4 linked regions of the Homo sapiens genome follow. The protein of the gene in region 4 interacts with the protein of the main gene of each other region in a pairwise test. Each region holds a gene or a part of one and is shown on either strand. Other genes may lie near its edges. The genes, in order: CEP57L1, KIAA1328, EFHC2 and GOLGA1.

Evidence for each region.
Region 1: the proteins of GOLGA1 (region 4) and CEP57L1 interact in binary tests that used the Homo sapiens proteins (3 or more experiments, as listed by UniProt).
Region 2: the proteins of GOLGA1 (region 4) and KIAA1328 interact in binary tests that used the Homo sapiens proteins (3 or more experiments, as listed by UniProt).
Region 3: the proteins of GOLGA1 (region 4) and EFHC2 interact in binary tests that used the Homo sapiens proteins (3 or more experiments, as listed by UniProt).

What each region holds. Positions count from the first base shown.
Region 1 is NC_000006.12:109,091,246-109,098,519, forward strand, and holds the start of CEP57L1 (centrosomal protein CEP57L1), read left to right. Parts: upstream 1-4,261; 5' UTR 4,262-4,330; intron 4,331-7,274. Other genes in the region: SESN1 (sestrin-1), read right to left, coding at 2,550-2,828. UniProt on the Homo sapiens protein: Centrosomal protein which may be required for microtubule attachment to centrosomes.
Region 2 is NC_000018.10:37,154,119-37,161,153, reverse strand, and holds part of KIAA1328 (protein hinderin), read right to left. Parts: intron 978-7,035; coding exon of another isoform or gene 955-977; coding exon 773-954; intron 1-772. UniProt on the Homo sapiens protein: Competes with SMC1 for binding to SMC3. May affect the availability of SMC3 to engage in the formation of multimeric protein complexes.
Region 3 is NC_000023.11:44,147,350-44,151,685, reverse strand, and holds the end of EFHC2 (EF-hand domain-containing family member C2), read left to right. Parts: intron 1-2,789; coding exon 2,790-2,891; 3' UTR 2,892-3,814; downstream 3,815-4,336. UniProt on the Homo sapiens protein: Microtubule inner protein (MIP) part of the dynein-decorated doublet microtubules (DMTs) in cilia axoneme, which is required for motile cilia beating.
Region 4 is NC_000009.12:124,889,081-124,896,115, reverse strand, and holds part of GOLGA1 (golgin subfamily A member 1), read left to right. Parts: intron 1-5,637; coding exon 5,638-5,727; intron 5,728-6,579; coding exon 6,580-6,682; intron 6,683-6,812; coding exon 6,813-6,973; intron 6,974-7,035. UniProt on the Homo sapiens protein: Involved in vesicular trafficking at the Golgi apparatus level. Involved in endosome-to-Golgi trafficking. Mechanistically, captures transport vesicles arriving from endosomes via the protein TBC1D23.

The sequences.
Region 1 (7,274 bases), on a different chromosome or scaffold from region 4:
GACACGCTGTACGGGTTTGTAGCCTAGAAACAACAGGCTATATAACACATAGCCTAGGTGTGTAGTATCTAGGTTTGTGTGATTTCACCCTATGATGTTCAAACAAATATGATACCACCTAACGATGCATTTCTCAGAGTGTATCACCATCATTAAGTGACACATGACAGTATCGCAGCCAGGTCTGCCAAACTCCAGAGTATGTCCTCTTAAGCTATTCACGCCACCCTCAAACTGTCTGCCCCAGCCATATTGCATTACTTTCAGCTCCTAGAACTCATCTGCTCTCCTTGGCATGAGGCCTTCATACATACCGTTCCCTATGTCCGGAATGTCCCCTCACAAATCTCACCTTTACATGGGTAATATTTATTCATTTATCATGTCTCTGCTTAAATGTCATTGCCTCAGGAAAGCTTTCCCTTACTATCTAAAATTAAATTTTATATTTGTTTACTTCTTTATGGTCTGTTTCCCTTTGGTATGATGTCAAAATTGTTACCACTGGTCCTCAGTTCTCAGAATGACATTCAGCAGGAGTTCAATAAACATTTGTTGCATAACTGCAAGCATAAATGAATGATGCTGGGGTGGAAACTCCCTAAACTGAAAACTTCATCTATTCAGACTACTGATGAAAAACAGAAAGAAAGTATAAATTTGTTCATCCACTGGATATTTATTTAGTAGCTTCCAGGTCCCAGCCAGTACTCTTAAGAACTCATAGCCTTCCTATGGGAGACAGACACAAAAGCATGTGCTTATAACACAATATAAGTAAATTGCCTTTTATAATTGTACAATAGATGCAGAGATGGAAAAAAAGAGTATAAGTCTATAGGGAACCTTCCCAGGAAATTCCTGAGTCCTTTTGCAGGATGAAAGAGTCTTGAAATATATATTGCATAGTCTATGTATTTCACTTATGAAAGGGAGAGGAGCATCTACTATATATACCAGAGTACTTTACATCTGATTTAATTCCCACAAGAGCTCTGTGTTGTTATTCCCATTTTACAGATGTGGAAATCCAAGCTAAGAAAGGTCAAGGAATTTGCCCAAGGTTACAGGCAAGGACATTAGTAAAGGAGTGGAATTTGAGCCCAACTCTGACTCCAGTACCCACTTATTTATCATTATATTGAAATCCTTTGATACTATGCTCCCCAGAGCCTGCTTACTTTTATTTTCAATATAACTCTTAACACGATTGGTTATCTGGTTTCCCATTCTAATATGAATTAAGCAGCAAAATGAAAGATCAGGAAGAGACCAAAGTCAAGTATCCTGACGGCAAAGGAAAGAACAGAAAAACTATAAAAATTACACACAAAAATACAAAAACTAATGGATCATATAGTCAGTCCTCCACCCTTTGCTGCACAACAATAGTTGATATGCATAATGATGACCCCATTATGGACAAAAATGGTTGTTACAGTCACTACAGTCTAGAAGATAGAGAAATAACTTTTTGTGTTTCAAAGGGTAAACTTCAGTTACCTAGTATATTAATTCCTCTCGGGTAACTCTGAATTGTAACAATTGTTTCCAAAGTGTTAGTGAGAAGAAATATCCCAAGATCTTAAATAGAGTCTTCATTTTGTGGATATTATTTTTCTGTTGCTTTAAACTAAATTCAAGCCAGTATATAAAAACTGTCACTTTTAACTTACATAGTTACCCAAGTACATTTTAAATTTTAAAAATCTCTCATACAGGACTTTGGACAACACACGTGGATTGAGAAATGTAAAGATTGACAAGCATATATAAGGTGTTGCTGAATATTGTCAATATCTAAAAACTTAAAAAAAAGTATTCTAAGACACCTTGTAATAAAACAGGATAAATTATGAACGAAATGGAGGAAAAACTATAATATTTTTAACCTGCTGCACTCGTATCTTAAATAGCTACACATGTGAAAAAGAAACAATTCAGGCAAACACAGAGAAAGCTAGTTGAGCAATTTGCCATAAAAGTGTTTCTATCAAATACCCCACCTGGGTCCACCTTTTCAACATGAAGATATTAGCTTCTTTTAAGATAGGTTTTTATTATTTTATATAATTCTCTTCTTGAAAAAAGAGAGGTTGCATTTAGAGAACACATCCTGGTTTGTTTTGTTTTTAAAAATAAGAGAAAATTGTTCCACCAATTATCTTGAACAGGCTGACTAGGAAACATTTAATATCCTTTATCATTTTAGAGGCTTTTAAATGTGAGCCTTTACACTCAGAACACTGTGACAATGTGAAAAAAAAACACTGGCTACATTTTCCAACAACATGTAAAAAGAAATATAAGGAAAAACAAGTATTTACTTGGAATTAACTGTAGTTTTCATATATTCTTCCAGGAGCAAAGCAGTTTCTGCCTAAAACTCTAGAAAAACACTACTTGTTTACTTACAGAACACTCTAAAGATGTAAACTCATAATAAAAGTTTACATAACAACCTAATAGAAACAAACACAACGTGAATAACGGCAAGTAAAATTTAACTGTAGTAGAGACATAGTTGTATTTAAAATGCTCTTCCTTACCTGGATGCTCTTCAGAATAAACTCACTTTTCTCTCTCACATCTTTGAAGGGACACCTCTTAGAAAGCATAAGCAGATGAGCAAGTAGCTTATTCAACCCATCCGAAGACTCGGTATTTGAAAGCCCGTCTGATGGACGATGAGGTGTTTCTTTCACCGAACGAAGATACTCGGTTTTCCTCAAAATGGTTTGCCTAATGTTTTCCAATGCTGTCTCCCTAGTAGTTGAATCTCTGCTGCAGAGTCCATCCCATCTCACTTCATTCTCTCCTTCAGCCATGACAATAGTTTTTCCTTTGCGGTCTTCAGTTACCTTTCAGCATGCCCCAAAAAAATTGCTTTGTATTTTTAAAATGAAAAATGTAAAAATAAAATCAGAGAAATCAAATCGTCATGAAAACACACATCTGGGTGACATTTGGAACCACTGGTGCCTTCAGCCGATCTACAAGCTAGGTCACCCTCTCACCCTCTCCTTGTACACGAAAGGGCAGTCTTCTTTCTGGAAAAACAAAGTTTGAAAGTTGCAACCTTGCAGCGCTGGCTTTGGTGGGCAGAGAATTTCGGGGAAGCGTTCTCCTCCGTCTCGCGGGGTCAGTGGATATCCTCACGTTGTGGAGCTGTCAAATCCGTGCTCTGCCCCAAAAGGCTGTTAACAGCTGAACGCCCTCCAGCCATTCGGGGCTTTTTTGTCTGTGCAGCCACCGGGTTCTCTCCGGCGTTCCCACCCCGCCCCTTCTCCGACACCAGTCCCCGCCCTCCGCAGCTCCTCCCAGCGCCTCAGCAGCCGGCCGGCGCCGGCAGGGAAGGCTCGCCGAACCCTGGCCCACTGGCCGCAGCGGCCGGAGGCTTGGGCGCTGTCGGAGGGCGGCAGTCTCGGGCAGCCGTAGTCTCGGCGGGCGGCGGTGAAAAAAAGCGTCCCCCAGCCCCGCCAATTCGGCACCCCCGGGAAGACGCTACTTCTCCGATCCCTGAGCCCTCGCCCACCACCGCCGAGCCAGAGGGCACAGGGCGGCCCTGGCAATCCTCGAGCGCCAGGCTGGGCCGCGGAGCTGGCGGGGCGGCGGGGCCCGAGGCGCAAAGCCCGCCCTTCGCCCAGCCCCATCGGTGGGGATCAGCCCAGAGGGCGGGAGCAGGGAGTGGAGACGGGGTCCTCACCCCCAGCCCCTCCCCTTTCTCCGCCCGGCACAAACCGGGAGCCGCCCCGGCCCCAGCGCCTTCTTCCCCGCCCAGGCAGACGCGACCCGCCGAGGCAAAGCCTTAGGAAAAAGCCCCGCCCTCTGGCAGGCTACCCTCCGGACCCCAAGTGCGCCGCGCGCGGCTGCCAGCCACTGCCGGCTGCTACGCATGCGTGACTGCGAACTGGGCCAAGCGCCCCCGGAGGCGCTAAGCTTGCGCCCTGAGGCGGTTTCCGTTCCCGGACGTTTGGACTCTGTCCTGGAGAAGGGGAAGGAAAAAGTAAGACGTAGAAGTACACTGAGACTTCGTCACACATAAAACAAGCACGACAAAGAAAGAGGGCGCGAAGGGACTCCTGGAAGAAATTGAGTCTACATTTAAGATCACCCTAAAAGTAGTGACGGCCTCTTCATTACTCCAAACCCCAGATTTAAGTCGGTAGGACGTCTTCGCGTTGACTTGTGGGGAATGTAGTTTCGATGCTGCCGGCGCGTTTTGTTTGCGACAGAAACTACAACCCCCAGGGGCCACCGCGACGTTGCCTGTGGGTGCCCGCGAACCAACGGTTAGCGGTGGCAGGGGCTGACTGAGAGCGTCTGCTTGGTAAGCACTGTAAGCTGGGTTGTCACCTTTCCTTGACAGGGTTTTTCCTTCCTCCATTTCCTCTGGGATTTTGGAGACAAAGCCATCTAGGGTGGCCTCCCTTAGTCCAAGGACTTTTTCCAGTGACTTGCGTGGGAAGGACTAGTCCAGCTGCCCAAGCGCGGGGTGTGGTGGGTGAGGCAAGGATTTGGGATCCTGATCCCAAGGGTCGCAGGGAGCGGCCTAAGTAAGGCCAAGAAGGAAGGATGCTGTGGAAACTGGAGCTTCGCGCTGCTGCCTCTGATTCCGCCCTTTTTTGTGGACACACGCGGGGTGGATTTGGGATCTCCGCGCATTTGCACCTTTGTTTGCCTTTGCTTAGGGATGTTCTGGGCTTTATTTGCTCAGTCAAATGAAATCCTAGGCAGGGCTTTGAAAGCAAGTTGTCAAATCCATCTCGTAAAAGAATCCCCAGTATTCCTAGATAGGAATTCTTGCAGGCTTTAAGGATACAGCAGGAAAAAGAAAGCAAAACCGTAAAAGTCTCCAAAACTTAGTCGACTTTTTCAAAAGATTCAGTCATTTGCTTAAAATTAGTTTGCTTTTAAAAAGTTATTATTTGAGAAAAGTCGAGGTTTGAACGGCCATCAGTGGACTGATAATCGGTGTAGATTTTAATTCTTTACATTGCAGAATTGCATTGCACTAAATTCTAAAAATTTCGTCTTGCTAGGCACTGAGTATACAACAATGAAAAAGACAGTCTTACTAGTTAGAGGAACTAGTTGTTAGACATACGGTTACAATAATACATGATATCACTGGGATGTCTAGAAGGAGATGACTTAGCCCAATCTTGGAAAGTCAGGGAAATCTTCATCCCAGGGGAAATGAAGACCAAAAGAACAGCATATGCTAAGGCCCAGAGTGAGAGATAGGGTACTTTCAGGAAACGTCAGTAAGCCAAATCATGCATACTTGGCGGTGTGGGGTGGGACGGGAAGGGTGCTTTTTGTGTATTGATGCACTTAGAAGCTACAAAGAGACAGGTATTGTGAATTCTTTACATCGTTTCTGTAAGTGAGCTATTTTTGAATAGATGCATAGTTCTGATGAATTGGTCTAATTTCAAAAGCCTTGTTACATTCTGACACTTCTAGTTTGAATCTGAATTTTAAAAAGGGAATAACTTATGAGTGTGATTGAAAAAGCAAAACAAAAACCATTCCGTTTTCATCTCCTTTTTGGGATCTTCATTCTCTATCCAGCCCATAAAGGGTCGGGTAGTTTCTTAAGGCTGGGTGCCTTTTTATGCCGTAGTTAAATATGATCTCATGTATACCCATGGCTTCACCAACACCTATGACTCTCAAATGAATAGCTCCATTCAGCTTCACCTCTCAGCTTTCACAATATCTCTTGGATATTTCTTCTTGGATATCTCAAAAGCATCTCAAACTCAACATACCTAAAACCAAATGCATAGTTATCTCTTATGAATCTAATTCTTTTTCAGTGTTCCTTATTTCAGCAAAGGACACTACTATCCATCTACTTGTGAAAATTTGAAAGCTAAACATTATTCTTTATTTCTTCTTGCCCTTCATACTTCTATGGCCAAATTATTATGAAGTTCTGCCAACCTTATCTCTCAAAATATCCTTCAAATATATTTTTCTCTCCACCTGTCTTCAAACTGCGATAATCTCTCAAGACCACTACAGTAGCAATTATTCACAATGACCCTCCTCCATTAGTTCTCCATTATATCTGCCAGAATGATTTTTTGAAACTGCAGATTTGATCAGATTTTCTCTTGGTTAAAACTATTCAGTGGTGTCCTACTACTGTTAAAGACAAAACTCCTTTATAAAGCCTGACATCATCTGGTACTCTTTCAGACTAACTTCATATATTGCCCTCCAGATCAGCCATACAGTCCATTTTTCAGTCATTGGTTCTCATATTCCATTTCACCCACGCGTTTACTCAACAAATCTCTGTTGAGTCCCTTTTATATAACAGGACATTGAAGATACAGCATTGACCACAATATATAAAAATTCCTACTGTCATAGAGCTTGCATTCTACTGAGGAGAGATAATAAATAAATATGTAAAACACTTAGTAAATGAAATGAAGACAAATGCAGTGGAGAATAAAACAACTGGGAAGGGGAATGGGGAGTGCCAGGATGTGAGGGGCAAGGTTCACTTTTAAATAAGGTTGTTAGAAAAGACATAATCCAGAAGGGGACAATTGAGATATGAAGTAGGGGAGGGAATAAACCATGTAGATGCCTGGGCAAATAACATTCTAATGAAGAGAATTAGTGCAAAGGCCTTGGGCAGAAGCCTGAGTGCGCATTTGAGAAATAGCAAGAAGGCTAGTGTGGCTGGAGCACAATGAGTACAAAGAGGAGAATAACATGAGGTCACAGAGAAAGGAAGTAATGGTAGGAGAACATGTAGGTGACTGAAAGGACTAACATTTTTAATTGGGTTGGGAAAGCATTGGAGAGTTTTGCGCAGATGAGGGCATGATCTGACTTTTAAAAAATGACTACTTTTCTCTCTCTCTCTTTCTCTCTCTCTCTCTCTCCCTCTGTCTCAACGGAGTTTTGCTCTTGTTGCCCAGGCTGGAGTGCAATAGCACAATCTTGGCTCACTGCAACCTCCACCTCCCAAGTTTAAGTGATTCTTCGTCCTCGGCCTCCCAAGTAGCTGGGATTACAGGCATGCACCACCATACCTGGCTAATTTTGTGTTTTTAGTAGAGACAGGGTTTCACCATGTTGGTCAGGCTGGTCTTGAATTCCTAACCTCAAGTGATCCACCCACCTCAGCCTTGCAAAGTGCTGGATTACAGGTGTGAGCCACCGTGCCCGGCCTCTTTCTTTTTTCCTGAGACAGAATCTGACTATGTCACCCAGGCTGGAGTATAGTCATAGCTCACTGCATCCTT
Region 2 (7,035 bases), on a different chromosome or scaffold from region 4:
TTAATGGTTTTGAGAAGGGAAAAAAGACACTAGGAAAGAGGTGTGAGCAGGAGAGGGCTCAGAGGTCTTTTTGGTCTTTTGTTTCCTGTACATCTTTTCTGTACAATAAAGCTCAGACTTGCTCCATTCTTTTCCAAAGTCGTTCCTTTAAGGATGCCAGGAAAGATTAAGCCAAAAGCCTCTCCAGGAACAACTGGGAAACAAATAAATTTGCTTCACTCAACATTTAACATAGTTACTTATAATTGATTTCTTTAAAGTCTACCACATATAACAGGAAGTATTATTGACACTTAAAAGACTGTTAGGCAAAAAATGCTTTAGACTTGTGAGGTTTTGCTTTAGTCACAATATGGGGAATTGTCCATGACCTCTCCTCCACCCTCCCCATGTTTCCAGTCAATTGAGGATTAACTGTAGTTGTTAGGGTTTATTTTTCCAGGAGAGATTTATGTTCAATATCTTGCCCTCTTTACTCACTTGGAACATTATTTTAGTCTATGACCATACTTACTGCTGACTAATTCTTAACAGTTATTGCTTGCAAAAAGAGGGACAAGTTGGATACAGTTTTTCATTCCAGTATTCTAAGAAAAACACAGACACAATTCACTAATCTAGTAAATGTGTTACCTGTGGCCTTGCAGGCACACTTCAGTGTGTAAACATTTAACTTTTGCTCAGCATTGTAGGAAATCATCTGAAATTCATTGGCTAGCAACTACCTTCCCCTACCAGTTTCTCATTTTGCCACTACAGTTGTTAAACTTACCTCTTTGGGGTCTACATGTATCTTTCTTTTGACATGACCACTGGGCATCATCTTTCATATGCGAATGAAACCCAACTGTCTTCCTCTCCTTCCTATTCTCTCCACTGTTTGGGGGGTCTTGGTGCTTTTTAATAGATGATGATGTTCCAAGCAGCCAGCCATCACAGTTTGACTTCAATAAACTGAAAGAACAACGATGAATGAACTGTTGAAGGCACAGAAGGGAACACAGAGCACATAGATATTTAAATTCAGTATGGGTTGAAATGCAATTCATTAAGAACTCTCTTTATCTTACCTTTTATTGAGGTATAATTTAAATAATTTACTCAACGTCTATTTTGTGTCCTGTCACAACAATTTTGGAAAAGAAATGGCCTTTATTCTCAAAAAGCTTACACTGGGAGTTGGGGAAATAAGATTCAAACTGATGAAACAGCTAATAAAGTCACAGAATATGACTAAGAACCAGGCTATCTATAGAAATAAAAAGTATGCTAAAACAGGACTTGCATATCTAAGATGTTTTCCAAGTACTAAAAATGAACACTAGGGATTAAAATATCACCAATGTGCCTCACACAAACGCGTTTGTGTTTCTAATTTTCAATTGTTATTAGTATTTATTATGTACCCAGAGTACGTAAGGAGTAGTGTAACAGTGCACGTAGAAGAACTAGACTCCATACTTACATAGTTTCATTAAAAGGTCAACAAGACAAATATAGAATAAAAGGCATTTTAATGAAAATGAACACATGTACATATTTTCTTCTCTAATAAACCGTGTTCCCACCATTAGCATATTTCCTCTTATAATATTTTCTTATTTTAGGGAAAAATATTCTAATGATGTGTTATCTCTCACTATTCCACTCTTCCCTCTTCGTGTTTGTTCACAACAAACTCATGACACTTTGGTTTTGTCTTCCCCATGCCCATAAACAATGTGAAAATTAAAGAAAAAGACATGGAAATGCATAGAGGCAGCTACTCAAAAAACAAGATTCTAAAATTAAAACGTTTAAACTCCCCAGAAGCAAAGGGAATCTCTAGACAAGAACAAGCTGAATGGAGTGTTGCCAGGTCTATCACTTACTCCAGGTGGCCTTTGACCAGGATTCAAATCACATAATCTTCTATAAATGTCTCTGGTTTATATCGATCAGAATTTTTAGCAGTGTTTGCTCATATCATAATTTATTAACAAAAACCAAGAAAGTAAATGGCTTTATGTTCAGAATTATATAAAGAAAATAAAATCATTAGTTATATGGCTTTATAAAGTAGGCACAAGAAAATGTATAAAAGTGATACTCTTCTTTTTTTTTTAAATCAGAACACAGAGACCATTTTCCTCTCAGACCCACCAGAAGATGTATAACTTAGGGTTATACAAATTGCACTCACGGAACAGGGAAATACGGAAAATAAAAGTACCTTATTGTGAATGTTATATAAATTTACGTCAACCCAGAGGCCCCAAACCCAGGCAAATCCAGTGACTACATCTCTGCTTGTTCTGTAGAAAAATGAATGTGACCCCAACCATTGGCTTCCCCAAATTTGATTCATTCTCAGCTCAGCCAGACTCCCAATACTGACTGCCTTCTGCTTCTTTACAGCATTTTCACAGAAGCTTTTCTGTACCTTTATTCAAAATTCCACCTTGGTAATCCTCCATCACAACTGGAAACTTGGCTTCTAATTTCCCTAAAATAAAGATGACTATATGAAAAATTTCTTCCTTCATTTGTATTTATTTCCATATTCACCCATCTACTATTCCTCTCTTCATGTCTCAAAAAATTTTACCTTTTATTTGCACTCTTGATACCATCTTGACCCATCCCCTCTGTGACTATGGCCTGTCAATCATCTCTTTTTCTTATAACTCACAAACTCCTCCTCTAAACTGGATTTTTTCCTAGGGCTACAAACAAGAGCAGATCCTCCATTAATACCCAGTGTCAGTGAGCGTGTGGGGACAAGAGCACTTTAATACCTATTGCAGGAACCACAAATGGGTATCACCTTTTTGTGAGTGACTTGTCAACACAAAATGAAAATGCATCCCTCTTTCAACAGTTCTACTTTTATCCCACACCTGAGGCCAGAAATTTGAGATCGGACTGGGCATCACAGCAAGACCCCATCACTAAAGAAAAAAAATTGTTTTAAATTAGCCAGGCATGGTGGCATGTGCCTATAGTTCCAGCTACTTGGGAAGCTGAGGCAGCAGGATAGCTTGAGCCCAGGAGTTTGGGCTTATAGTGAGATATGACCATGCCACTGCACTCCAGCCTGGGAGACAGTGAGACTCTGTTTCCAAAAAAAAAGAAAGAAAGAAAGAAAGAAAAAAAAAGGAATTTCTCCTGCAGAATTACATGAACAACAGCATGAGAATATTTGTTTAAGGATAATCACTGGAGAATTATTTGTAATAGTGAAAAACTGAAAGCAAATATCATTCTATAAGAGAATGAATAAATTATGGTACATATTAATTATAAAGAACACTATTCAGCCATTAAAAAGAATGAGGTAATTCTTTTTTTTTTTTTTTTTTTTTTTGGAGAGGAGTCTCACTCTGTTGCCCGGGCTGGAGTGCAGTGGCGCAGTCTTTGCTCACCACAACCTCCACCTTCCAGGTCAAGTGATTCTCCTGCCTCAGCCTCCCGAGTGCTGGGACTACAGGCACACACCACCATGTCCGGCTAATTTTTGTATTTTTAGTAGAGATGGGGTTTCACTATGTTGGCCAGGCTGGTCTTGAACTCCTGACCTCGTGATCTGCCCACTCGGCCTCCCAAAGTGCTGGGATTACAGGTGTGAGCCACCACACTTGGCTAGGATGAGGTAATTCTTTACACTGATGAGAAGAAACTTCATGACATGCTATTAAAATAAAAGCAATTTGCAATTATAGAGTATATAATGTGATCTCATTTTTATAAAAATAAAAATATACAAAAATATTTTTAAAGTTCTGGATGGATAAATGTCAAACTAGAAGGGAGTAGAAGAAATAGAGGGAAGAGTTTTATATTTTAATTTATATAACTCTGAATGTTTTAATTTCTTCCAATAGGCATGCATTTTATAATTTAAAAACAAACAAAAAACTCTCACCATGTCCCTTCCATTACCATCTCCTCTCTCCTTGTCTGCTGAACGTCTAGAAAACAATAATTTATTCTAACAGACATACCGACTAGAACTTGTTTTTAAAGAACAAATCAAAAGGCCTTTCTTCTTTGAACAGTCTTGCTTGTTACTAGATCACCCTACAGAAATTCAAGAAATTCAAGAAAACATTTTTTCTTGAAATGTTTTCTCCCTTGGTCTTCATAACACATTATCCTGACTGGTTTTCTGGTTTTAGGAGACTTCTTCCTTCCCCTTAGATGCAGACATTGCAAAAGTCTGTCCCTGTCCTCTTCCCTCTTAGTACTTTCTTGGTGATCCTTGCCACACCTCTATATCTGCAAGTACGATTTCTAAACAGATTCTTCTAGTTCACAGTGCTTGCCAAAACTGCTGACCTGATCAAGTATCTGATGAAAAGCTGTAAAGCGATGTCTATTCCTGCCTCCCAAACCAACTCTTGCTAAAGCAATCCAGTATCTTTATCTTGAAACTACTTCCTCCTTCTGTTTCCATTCTCACTTAATGATATCACCATCCTCCCAGTCACTCATAAGAAATCTCAGTTGTCTCAACTTCTGCTCTCCTTATTCCTTTTTAATAAATTTCCTAATCAATCATTCACTTATATATTCATCAGATATTGACTGAAGAACACACTTTATGGGCCTGATATGTACTGTGAGACTGGGCTGGGCAAAATGGAAAACAAACATTTACAGAGGACTTATTTTATGCTAGGTGCTGGGTATACAAACATGAGAAAGCCCTCGTTCCCATTCTTTTTTTTTTTTTTTTTTTTTTTTTTGAGGCGGAGTTTCTCTCTTGTCACCTAGGCTGGAGTGCAATGGCACAATCTCGGCTCACCACAACCTCTGCCTCCCGGGTTCAAGCGGTTCTCCTGCCTCAGCCTCCCGAGTAGCTGGGATTACAGGCATGCAATCCCATGCCTGTAATTTTGTTACATGCCCGGCTAACTTTGTATTTTTTAGTAGAGATGGGGTTTCTCCATGTTGGTGAGGCTGGTCTCGAACTCCCGACCTCAGGTGATCTGCCCGCCTTGGCCTCCCAAAGTCCTGGGATTACAGGTGTGAGCCACCGAGCCCGGCCCAGCCCTGGTTCCTATTCTTAAAGAGATTTTAGTGGGGGAGACAGACGTGGAAACAGAATTTTTAATACCATATGCCAAATGCAGTAATTCAGGAATATACTGGATGTTATGAGAGTGCAAGGGCAAGGCACCTAACTTTATTTGCATAACAGAAGAGAGATTCCTGAAATACTCAAACTTAACCTTGAAAGATAAGGAAAAATGTAAGAATGTTCTAGGTAAAATAAAAAAGTATTAGCAAATATACCAACAAATGAAACTTCAGTTCATATTTTGGGAAAGTTAAATAGCTAGGTATTGTTACAGCATTAAACTTTGGGTGTGTGGTAGGGAGGAACGGAGATGAAGCAGGTAAGACAGGGCAGGTCAGATCATGAAAGGTTGCGTTTTCCATGCTGAGGGGCTTGAACTCTATCTTGTGGCCAAGGTGGAGTCACTGAAAGGCTCTCAGGAGAAAAATGATATGATCCAACCAGAATTTATGAAAAATTACTCTGGCACCATTTAGAGAATGGGCTTCAAGAAACTGGATGAGTTGGAAGGCTGCTGAAACAGCTCTGGTGAGAGATGAAGGTTTGCAATAGAGAAGCGGTAGTAGGAACGGAAAGACATAGTTTAAGAAATATTTAGGATTTAAAAAGGGTAGAACTTGATGTAAGAGAGAGGGAGAGAAAAGTCAAGAATGACTGCCAGAATTTTGGGTTGATAAGCAATACAGAGGAGGATTGGGGAAGGGTGGGAAAAATTAACTGCAGCTTGAGATGCTTATGGAACATCTGAGAAGATATTTCAAGAAAGTAATTTGATCAGTAACTCCATGGCTTTTTGCTATTGGCTAAGTGAGTTTAGAGGTGGTAGAGTTGAGGGAGGCAGAGTTGAGAAAGAATATGCTTCAATTTCAATTTCCTTGGTGTAGGAGGAGATACAGTCATTCTTGTGAGTGAGTAAAGCAGGTATTGAGAAGAGAGGTGAAGGTTTGGAGTATGTATTGAGGGAATTCGAAATAGAAATGAAAAGAAAAAGATTTTCCTGAAATGTTGAGGCCCTAACAGAAATAGAAATCATCCATTTGTAGCAGGGCTCAAGTGCAGAGATTAAAAAGCAGAGAAAGCAGTGTGAGAGCTCAATCTAGGGTTAGGATTTTTACTGGGACAATGCAGCAGACTGGGGGTCAAGGGAAATAAATATATTAATGTAGTATAGGTCAACCATTCGGTCCAGGAAGAAAGTGAGGCAACAGGGACTGAAAAGACTGGCAGAAAAATGAGGGGAAATAAATAATTTAGATATCCCTTTAAGGTAAAGCGAAAATAAAACAGCAACAACACCAGAAATATAAAAACCCTTGGTATGGTGTATGTGATAAACATGAGAATATAAGCTGTAAAGAAAGAGGCTGGGATGGCAGAGTCAATGATTTTTCTGATGAAACCATGGTGGGTGATAGCAAGCTCTGGGTGTCACCATGGATGATGCTGGAGTGAATTGAGGAACGCAGAAATTCTTTAGCTATGGCAATGGATACATCAACCATATGGATATTGGGATCTCACAGAATGATGGTAGGAGTTATGGGGGAGAAAGTGACTTTAAGTGGGACGTCAAGGTCCTAGTGAGATAATGATGGAAAACAAAGGATGGAAAAGGATGGACTGCTGCAGTAAAACTAGACATATATTTAGATTCACATAAATAAAGAGATATGCAAGAAAAATGCTGGCACTCCTCTCTCTGTTGTTTATCAAATGTGACAGAAAGAATGGCCTCTAATAGAAGTGGTGCTCTCAGAAAAGATGCTGATTTTAGGCAGTGATTCACAGCTTGGCAATACATTTAAATAATCTGGGGAATTTTTAATAAGAGCGATGGACTGAGTCTCACCCACTTGTCGAAACTGAATTAATCAGTCTAGGGTGGGACCTGGATATTATTTGCTTCCCTCTCTCACTCTCCTCTCCTTTTAAAAAAGTTCTATAGGTGATTCTAATGTTCAGATAGGATTGAA
Region 3 (4,336 bases), on a different chromosome or scaffold from region 4:
TGGAAATAATCTTTGCAGATATAATTAATTAAAATGAAGTTATGCTGGATTAGAGTGGACCCTAAATGCATTGATTGGTGACTTTATAAGAAAGCTGCGTGAAGACATATTGGTATACACAGAGAACACCATGTGAAGTTGGAGGCAGACGTTGGAGTGATGTGCTTACAAGCCAAGGAATGACTGCCAGCCACCACCAGAAGCCAGGAGAGAGGCATGGAATAAATTCTTCCTTAGAGCCTCCAGAAAGATCCAACGCTGCCAACACCTTGGTTTTGGACTTCTGGCCTTCTGAACTGTGAAAGAATAAGTTTCTGTTGCTTTAAGCCACTTACTTTGTGGTACTTTGTTACGGCAGCCCCAGGAAACTAATAACAGACACTGTCAACTATTACTGAATTTAGAATTCTTAGAACCATCCTTACCTGTATTAGTTTCCTAGTGATGCCCTCACAAAGTACCACAGACTGAGTTGCTTAAAACAATAGAAATTTATTCTTCCACAGTTCTGGAGGCTAGCAGTTCAAAATCTAGGTGTCAGCAGGGCCATACTTTCTCTGAAACCTGTGTGGGAATCCTTCCCTGCCTCTTCCTAGACTTTGATGGTTTTCTGGCAATCTTTGGCGTTCCTTGGTTTGCAGCTGCAAACCTCTAATCTCTGCCTCTATGGTCACCTGGTGTTCCCCCTGTGTGTCTCTGTCTTTACCTGGCTGTCTTTTTATAGGGAGGCCAGTCATATTGGATTAGGGGCCCACCCTACTCCGGTATGATCTCATTTTGCTCATCTTAATTTACCTAATTACATCTGCAAAAACCCTATTTCCAAACAAGGTCACATTCTGAGGTACTAGGGATTAGGACTTCACATAACTCTTTTGCATGAGGACACAACTCAACCCATAGCACTACACCTTTCTTTTGTCACCATTTCAAGTTGATCCCCTTCTAGCTATTTCATGTTCTCCTGCAGCAGCATCTCTCAGAGTAGCTCCTGTCCTCCATGCCCGCTTCAGCCACCCTGGTTATGGCACAGTCATTTTTCTGCGGTATTATAGTACTCACCTCCAGATTGATTTTCTTACTTCATGTCATTCTCTGTACATCCAGCAAGTTAGCTAATCAGTTTCTAATCAGATTTCTGTCATTTCCCTGGCCAAGACCTACCAGTGACTTCCCCTAACCACAGCCTCAAGTATAAACTAGCACAGAAGGCCAGAAGTTTGGCCCCAGCTTCTCCTTCTAACCATCTCTCTTGCCACTTTGCACCATGTGCCGCAAACCACACTGGGCTACTCACCCTTTCTTGAAAATAGATTTTAGATCTCCAGGCCTTTGCTTACGCTGGTCCCTATGCCTGGAATACCCTTCACAACCCTAAACCCTCTGCTGAACTGTTTTTCATCCCATAAGGTGCAACTGAATCACCACTTATTCAGCTTGCTTCCAAAATTCCATCACATCAAATTATTGAGCCTTTACCTATGTTTCTGTGACACCTTGTGATTCTGGATACTAATGTAACACTAGTAAAGATATAGAACCTCTTATATACAACAATTAACCTTGACAGTCATATTTTAACCTTGAAAGTAGAAATATAAGCAACCATATGTATGAACTTTGCCTCCTGTTGATATTAATTAACCATTGAGGCATATGCAAAAAGTTTGTGTGTGTGTATATACACGTATTTATGTATTATATAAAATGTGCATCTGTGTGTGTATATGTGTACACACACACACACAAATAAAGTGGCTTATCTGCAAGATCATACTGTGAGTGATCCAGTGTTCTTTTCATTGTTTACTGAAGAAACAGTAACCAATCAGCCAGTATAGATACCAGTTTGTATTTTAAAAATTGGGTTCTTTAGGCAGCAGTTCACGTCTGTAATTCCAGCACTTTGGGAGGCTGAGGTGGACATATAACTTGAAGCCGGGAGTTTGAGACCAGACCAGTCCGGCCTATATGGCGAAACCCGTCTCCTAGAAATACAAAAATTAGCCGGGCATGGTGGCATGTGCCTGTAATCCCAGCTACTCGGGAGGCTGAGGCATGAGAATCACTTGAACCCGGGAGTTGGAGGTTGCAGTGAGCAGAGATTGTGCCAGTGTACTCCAGCCTGGGCAACAAAGTGATACCCTGTCTTTAAAAAAAATAATAAAATAAAAATAAAAATTGGGTTCTTAAGAAAGTATAGGAGGATCTATCAGCGTATTCATGCTGCATAACAACTCCTTAAATTTCAATGGTTCACAACAAGACACATTTCTTTTTCTTGTCTATGGGCATGTAGGTCAGTGAAGCATGGCTGGATTCAGCTAAGCTTGGCTCTTAGTCCGCAAGTCCAGCCTGGTCTGATCCACCTTGGTCATTCTAAGAACAGCAGCATCCTGGGCCATGTTCTTTTCATGGTGATGGCAGAGGCACAGAAGGCCAAGCCAAATGATGCCAGCACGCTAGAGCCTCTGTCCATGATATGTCTGCTAATAGTACATAGGTCAAAGCCAGTCATGTGGCCAACCCCATATCAAAGGAACAGGAAAATATACCCTTCTTACTCCACAGGAGGTTCTACAGAGTCATATGACAAAGAGTGTGGGCACATAATTCTTATACAGGGAGGGAATGAAGAATCAAGAACAAGTATCCAGTAGACCACAAAGTCCTTATGAACCTAAAGTAGATGGTAGAAATTTTCACTTTGCAAATAAACTGGTGTTGAATTTTCAAAACTGTACTTTGAAATGTGGTTCTAATCATATCCATTTTTGGTTTTTTTCTAGAGATGTGAAGATGTTTGGCTTGGTATGCCATCACCTATTCCTGCGAAATACATTGACTACTGGACCTTTTTGAAGGACGCGTTTGGCTTAGAGGAGGAATAACCATGCCAGTTTTGGTCAATTCTCTATGATTTACTTCTCTCATTTTGCCACATTTACTTTAGTAGATATAATTTCATTAAAAACAAAAAAGAAACAAGGTTTATATTAAATGGAAATCCATAAACCACAATTAATCCTATTTTGTCATGTTAGTTTTACAGAACATCATGTTACATTGCCGACGTACTGTTACTATTTAAAATGCCATCTTAAAACATGTTGAATATTTTTATTATATGTATGGTTTATTAATACCAAAAAATCTTCTGATAATTTTTGATCCAACATAATTTGATTCATTACTATATGAACAGAAAATGACTTTTGAAGGTTATACATGACAATACAAAATCAAATTATATCACAGCAATAAGTTGTGATTCTATTAAACATTTTTGAAACCTTTTTGACACGTTTATTACTTACATAATTAAGTTTTGTAGCAACCCACCTCATCAAAATAATTCTTAAACCTCTCTAGAGTAAATATATTTATCTTTTGAACTTAGTAAAGCTATGGGAAGAAAAAGAACCTCCAACACACACACACACACACACACACACGCACGTGCACACACACTGGAAACATATGCAGTATTTATATTTGTAATGCCCTTTTTTCTATCTAAAGTCAGCTTGTTAGCTTAGGAATATATGCATGTGTGTATAATTATAGTTTGACCAAAACTTTATTATGTCTAAAATATTTACAAATGTGAAAGCTGAAGATTTTGAGATTTTTGTTTTTTTTTTGGTTTGTTTTACACACACATCCCACGCGCCCCACCCTAGAGGTTTAAATATTCAGAAACTACAACATTTTTCCCCTGCATTTTTCTAGTTCTATTTTTATTTTTCTTCAGCAGAACTCTTGTCATGTAGTGTACATTTGATTAAAACCCATAGCCATGTACCTCTGGGAATTCAGTGTAAGAAGTCTATCCCAGTCTATGCCATTGTTCAGTGTTGGATGCTATGTATCATAAATCCATTTGCCTGGTGTTCTGGGAGACAATGGAGGTCTCAAAAAGGAGCTGCACCATTTACCTTTCAGGGACTACCCTGAGAAAAAGAAGAGCTGATGACATCTCAAGGGACCCTTCGGACTCATTATTCTTTCACTCCACATTTGCAGCAGTGTCTTGCTGGCTTCTTGGCACTCAAATGTACCAATTTATTCTCCACAACAATGGCCCTTTCATTTTTAAAAAATTGGAGTTAATCAATAAACGATTTCTATATGTAAGCCTAGGATAATTCCACATGTGCTATTGTTAGAATAGACGCTCCTCCCAACCCTTTCAGGACTTAACACTAAACTAGTATACTCAATTTATATACTAAAACTATCTACCATAAATCCTAAATTTGACTACTTGATTTTTGTCCCAGGTTTTTTTTAAGGCAACTGACAGTGCCAAGCCATTTTGTCACTTTAAGATTTT
Region 4 (7,035 bases):
GGACTTAGGAATGAGAAAAAAATAGGAATTGTAGATGACACCTAGGTTTGGTTTGTATAACTCAGAGTTTCTCCACCTCAGCGCTATTGACGTTTGAGGCCGGATGGTTCTCTGTTGTAGAGGTTCTCTGTTGTGGATGGTTCTCTGTTGTGGATGGTTCTCTGTTATAGAGGGTCTCTGTTGTGGAGGGTCTCTGTTGTGGATGGTTCTCTGTTGTGGGTGGGTCTCTGTTGTGGGTGGGTCTCTGTTGTGGAGGGTTCTCTGTTGTGGAGGGTTCTCTGTTGTGGAGGGTTCTCTGTTGTGGAGGGTCTCTGTTGGGGATGGTTCTCTGTTGTGGAGGCTCTCTGTTGTGGAGGTTCTCTGTTGTGGAGGATCTCTGTTGTGGATGGTTCTGTGTTGTGGAGGGTTCTGTGTTGTGGAGGGTTCTCTGTTGTGGAGGGTCTCTGTTGTGGATGGTTCTCTGTCGTGGAGGCTCTCTGTCGTGGAGGCTCCCTGTCGTGGAGGCTCTCTGTCGTGGAGGGTCTCTGTCGTGGGTGGTTCTTTGTTGTGGAGGGTCTCTGTTGTGGATGGTTCTCTGTTGTGGAGGGTCTCTGTTGTGGAGGGTCTCTGTTGTGGAGGGTTCTCTGTTGTGGAGGGTCTCTGTTGTGGAGGGTTCTCTGTTGTGGAGGGTTGTCTGTTGTGGAGGGTTCTCTGTTGTGGAGCGTCTCTGTTGTGGAGAGTCTCTGTTGTGGAGGGTTCTCTGTTGTGGAGAGTCTGTTGTGGAGGGTTCTCTGTTGTGGAGAGTCTCTGTTGTGGATGGTTCTCTGTTGTGGAGGGTTCTCTGTTGTGGAGGGTTCTCTGTTGTGGATGGTTCTCTGTTATGGAGGGTTCTCTGTTGTGGAGGGTTCTCTCTTGTGGATGGTTCTCTGTTGTGGATGGTTCTCTGTTATGGAGGGTCTCTGTTGTGGAGGGTCTCTGTTGTGGAGAGTCTGTTGTGGATGGTTCTCTGTTGTGGAGAGTCTCTGTTGTGGAGGGTCTCTGTTGTGGGTGGTTCTTTGTTGTGGGTGGTTCTCTGTTGTGGATGGTTCTTTGTTGTGGGTGGTTCTCTGTTGTGAATGGTTCTTTGTTGTGGATGGGTCTCTGTTGTGGAGGGTTCTCTGTTGTGGATGGGTCTCTGTTGTGGATGGGTCTCTGTTGTGGAGGGTCTCTGTTGTGGATGGTTCTCTGTTTTGGATGGGTCTCTGTTGTGGAGGTTCTCTGTTGTGGAAGTTCTTTGTTGTATTTGCTGCAAATATGCATGATAAGATGCTTAGGAGCATCTACCCACTAGATGTCAGTAGCAGCCCCACTTAGGACAACCACAGTGTCTCCAGACATTGCCAAATGTCTTGTGGGGGCAAAAGCACTGCTGGCAGAGAACCACTGGGGTAACTGAATGAATAGGGTACGTACCATTCACTGAGATGGGGGTCCTGGGAGGTATGTCAAGAGTGGATTCCATTTTGGGCATGTTGAGCTTCAGAGGCCTACCCAACAGGCATATCTAGTAGTCTGTAGGCTGACAAGTCTGGAAAATTGGAGCAGATTCTGAGTAGACATATAAATTAGGAAGCCTGTGTGCCTATAGTTCCAGCTGCTTGGGAGCCCAGGAGGCGGAGCTTGCAGTGTGCAAGATCGTACCACTGCACTCCAGCCTGGATGACAGAGCAAGAACCTATTTCAAACACACACACACACACACACACACACACACACAAAACTTTAAATTAGGAAACCATCAATCAGCATAGCTCATAGGCAAAATTACAGCCAAATGGCTATCAATGAGTGCAGATAGAAAAGAGGCCAAAATGAAGGCCAGGGCCACACCCACAAGCACAGGCTCAGAACAAAAGGAGGGGCCGACAGAGAAGACGCCAAAGGAGCCGCAGGTAGGGTAGCAGTAAAAGCAGGTGCATGTGGGGCTCTGGAAGTACAGGGCAGAAAGCGCTACAAGAAGGATTGAGTAGTGAACTCTGTGATATGCTGCCAACTGGTCAAGAAAGGAGACAAAGAGCTGACCATTAGATTTGACGAGACTGAGTTTGTTGGCAACGCTGGGAAGAATAGTCACCGTAGAGTCGTAGGGAATATGGTTGACGAGAGCAGGTTAAAATGAGACTAGAGAGATGCTTCCACTTGCAGTAAAGGCAAACTAGGTAATTCAGACCAGCTCACCTGAGGACTCCCAGAAAAACTGGCCAAAATAAGAGAACATCTGCTTGTAGGAGCCTACAGGACTGAGGAATGGCCCATCCTGCCCAGGGACGGGAGTCCAGCATGCAAAGCAGCTTTTGCCGTGGTGGTATCTGCTGATCCTGAAGAGGCTGGAAGTTTATCTAAGTTTTTCATAGTTTCTCAGAGTTAGGGGAATAAAATTTGGAGTTTAAATTTTATTAAAGCTTGGATCCAGCCTGGGAGATCCTGAAAGCTTTGGTTAGGCACACCACAGGACTACACGCTAGGAGTAAGCTTGAACGGGAAGTAACCAGCACCCCATCTGCACCCCGCCCCCAGCTTTGATTGCACTAACTGAAGGACACGGGGTGGCCCAGGAAAAGCCCATTAGCTAATTTTGGATTAAAATGATCCCAGGTTATTAGTGCTCCTGGGTGACTAGAAAAAACAAAATCAAAGATAGGTAAACAAAAATACAAAACAACACAAAAGAAACAGACTCACAAGGGCTCAGATATCATATGCTTACTATGTTTAAGGAGATAAAAGACAAAATTTAAAATTTCAGCAAGATGTGGAATAGTTCTATTATTATAGTTATGATAAAAGACAGCAGTTTTAAAAAAGGAATCAAATAGAACTTTAGACCTGAAAAATAGAATAACTGAAATTAATACAATAAATTACAAAAGGACAGGAGGAAGCTTTCTGGGGGATGGGTATTTTTACTATTTTTATTAGGGTGATGGTTTCATCACAGTTCATCAAGGCATACACCTGTAGTCCCAGCTACTCAGGAGACTGGGGCAGGACGCTCTCTTGAGCCTAGAAGGTCGAGGCTGCAGTGAGCTATCATCACAAACTGGACTGCAGCCTGGGTGATAGAGCAAGAACCCATTTCCAAAAACATAAAAATTTAAATGTAAACATATAGAAAACTCTTATATGTTTACATTTAAGAAATACACTTTCTTTTTTTTTTTTTTTGAGATGGAATTTCTCTCCTGTTGCCCAGGCTGGAGTGCAATGGCGTGATCTCGGCTCACTGCAACCTCCGCCTCCTGGGTTCAAGCGATTCTCCTGCCTTAGCCTCCTGAGTAGCTGGGATCACAGGCATGCACCACCACACTAGGCTAATTTTGTGTTTTCAGTAGAGATGGGGTTTCTCCATGTTGGTCAGGCTGGTCTCGAACTCTCAACCTCAGGTGATCCGTCCACTTTTGCCTCCCAAAGTGCTGGGATTACAGGCGTGAGCCACCATGCCCAGCCTGAAATACACTTTCAAATAACCCATAGGTCAAAGAAAAAAATCACAATGGAAATTTTAAAATATTTTGAAATAAAGTTGGGCACAGTGGCTCACACAGTGAGCTGAGATTGTGCCATTGCACTCCAGCCTGGGTGACAAGAGCAAAACTCTGTCTCAAAAAAATAATTATAATATTTTGAAATAAATGATTTTGTAAATACTGTGGATCAAAATTGGTCAAGTATAACTAAAGCAGTGCATGGAAGGAAATTTCAGTCTCAGTGGCATCTCTTAGGAAGAAAGCCTGAAAATTGAGCCATGTATGCATCTCAAAAAGTCAGAAGAAGGCACAAATCAAACTCAAGGAAGAAATAACAAATATAAGCACAGAAATTAATGAAATAGAAAATAAAATGGGCCCGGCGTGGTGGCTCACCCCTGTAATCCCAGCACTTTGGGAGGCCAAAGCGGATGGATCACATGAGGTCAGGAATTCAAGACCAGCCTGACCAACATGGTGAAAGTCCATCTCTACTAAAAATACAAAAATTAGCTGGGCATAGTGGCACATGCCTGTAATCCCAGCTACCTGGGAGGCTGAGGCAGGAGAATTGTTTGAACCCGGGAGTCAGAGATTGCAGTGAGCTGAGATCGTGCCATTGCACTCCAGCCTGGGCAACAAAAATGAAACTGTCTCAGGAATGAAGTGAAGAAGGGAGGGAGGGAGGCTGGGCGCAGTGGCTCAAACCAGTAATCCCAGCATTTTGGGAGGCCAAGGCAGGTAGATCACCTAAGGTCAGGAGTTTGAGACCAGCCTGGCCAACATGGCGAAACCCGGTCTCTACTAAAAATACAAAAATTAGCTGGGTGTGGTGGCACATGCCTGTAGTCCCAGCTACTCGGGAGGGGGAGGCAGGAGAATCGTCTGAACCCAGGAGGCAGAGGTTGCAGTGAGCTGAGATTGCGCCATTGCACTCCAGCCTGGGAAACAAGAGAGAAGCTCCATCTCAAAAAAGAAAAAAAAAAACAAAAGAATGGGACCCTCTCATAGTAGCGAGGACTGCTGAAGCCTGAGGTGGATTATTTGAAGGTGAATAAAATCGCTAAGCTCTGGGTGAGACAGATCAAGGCCATATTTAGTTTAACAGTCTACTTGTTCCATCAGCTACTAAGAAGGGTGTGCTCAGTCTTCCACTACGATGGTAGATTTGTCTCTTTCTTCCTTTAGTTCTGTCTGTCTTTGCTTCATGTATTTTGAAGTGCTGCTATTAGGTGCACATACATTTAGAATTGTTTTTCTCCATCCACGCTCTTCAAAGCAGCTGTTCCCTAAGCCCATCCTGGAGAATCATCGCAGAGGCAGCCGTGCATGGGTGGCCTGGTGGCTTCTGCAAGCTGCAGGCCCTGCTTTGTGCCACAGTGAACCTGAGCAGGCACTGTCAACCCCACCTCCCACAGTGCTGGATCTTAGGTGGCTCTGAGGCGCTAGGGCAGACTTTGGAGCCACAGAGACTCAGTTCTGTCTTGTCAGCCTAGCCCCTCACTAGCTGATGCTTGAAGGAATCCATTTTCCTGCAGCCTTGACCTCCCGGACACAAGCAATCCTCTCGCCTCGGCCTCCTGAGTAGCTGGCACTACAGGCATGTGACACCATGCTCGGCTAATTTTTCTTATTGTTTATAGAGACAGATCCTCACTGTGTTACCCAGGATGGCCTTGAACTCCTGGGTTCAAGCGATCCTCCCACCTCAGCCTCCTGAAGTGCTGGGATTATTGGTGTGAGCCACCGTCCCTGGTCATTACTTCTTCTTCTTTCCATAACCAATTGTTCCAGTCCCCCACTCCATTCACGTGGCCTGCGAGTCTGACTTCTTGTTCTTGGCTACTGTCCTTAGACCAGCTCTTCAGGATAGGCCCCTAGCCTTGGTGTGGGTCCTGGCGGGGGTGCTCGTGGGGCAATCGATCCTCAGTGGTGTGCCATTTCCAGAGAAGTCGGTGGGTTGCCTGCCAGGATAGCTCTGAGAGGGATACTGAGGGCATGGCAGGGAGGGGCCAGGCTGGGAGCCTGGGAAGTGGGGAGCATGTTGGTCTGGCTCTGCAAAGCCATGCCCTGTCTGCTGGGCTTCTTGCGTGGCATACAGCTAAAAAACTGTGAACTAAGTTTTGGGGCTCAGTGGTTTTCTGCATTGTAGGAAGAATGGAGCCAAAGAGAAATTGTGAGCGTGGCCATGGCTCAAGCCCTGGAGGAGGTGCGGAAGCAAAGGGAAGAGTTCCAGCAACAGGTGGGCCCTGTTTCACGCTGAGGGGCGATGTCCCCCTGCAGTCCCACAGGCAGCAGGCCCATCCTGCCGTGAGACTGTTGGAGAGGGCCTGTCTCTCCAGGGTAGGGTAGTAGACTCAGGACTCAGGGAATGCAGTCAGCTGCGTGGGCCCCTGTGCTCTCTAGGAAGCTGGGAGACAAATGTTATAAAGAAACTCTTACCCCATAGGATGCCCTTTTCTGATTTTTCAACTATAATTACCTGGAAAGTGGTCCATGTCCACGGGCCTAGTGGGCTCTAATTCTGTGAGGTGACCTATCATTGCCCACCTGCCCCAGAGGCCACGTAAGGTTGGGTTGAGTTTTTGCAGGAAGTATGGGAAAGCCTCCCTTGAAGGTAGACTTTGCATCTGACCCCAGAGCTTCTAGTTAAGTGGCTTTAGGCCTTTGGTAAGTCCTTAACAAATCTGAGTCTCCTCTGATGAGGACTCTAGCCTTCTACTTACACCTCTGGGAAACTATTCTGTAATGAGGCAACATATATCAAATGCGTGTCTAGTGCTGGGGATGTTGCAGGCACTCAGGAAATGGAAGTTATGACAGCTTGTTGGGCTGGGCAGAATGGCCACGTCTCTGGTTGACCCACTGTTGGCCAGGGGGCAGTGGGAGGCGACTGCCCCTGTGCAGGGCCCCTACCAAGGAGAATAGATTTGTGCATGTTCATAGGAGCAGAGCTTAGCTGGGGGTTTGCTCTGGGTCGTGGACTTCAGGGAGGGATTCGTGGTGTACCCTGGAGAGCGGGGAAGTGGAGATTTCTGTGGGAAGATGGAGTCACTGCTCACAACCTTCCCTCTTGTTGATTTTTCTCTCCAAGGCAGCTAACCTGACAGCCATAATAGACGAGAAGGAACAGAATCTGCGGGAAAAAACCGAAGTGCTTCTCCAGAAAGAGCAGGAGATTCTCCAGCTGGAGCGAGGTGAGGAGTCGGTCCCTGGCTGAGCCTTCTCTCCTTTTCAGGCCCAGCATCCTGCCTTGTGACGGCCTTGCCACCAAGCAGCATGGAGTCACTGGGCTCACAGTGCCCCCTCCCCTCCTCCCCGACCTAGGTCACAACTCTGCCCTGCTGCAGATACACCAGCTGCAGGCCGAGCTGGAGGCCCTGAGGACCCTCAAGGCGGAGGAGGCTGCAGTGGTCGCGGAGCAGGAGGACCTGCTGAGGCTGCGGGGCCCATTGCAGGCCGAAGCACTCTCAGTCAATGAGTCGCACGTAAGTCCCAGCTGCACCTGCATGGGTGCTACAGCAAGATGCAGGGCAGGTGCCGAGAGTGC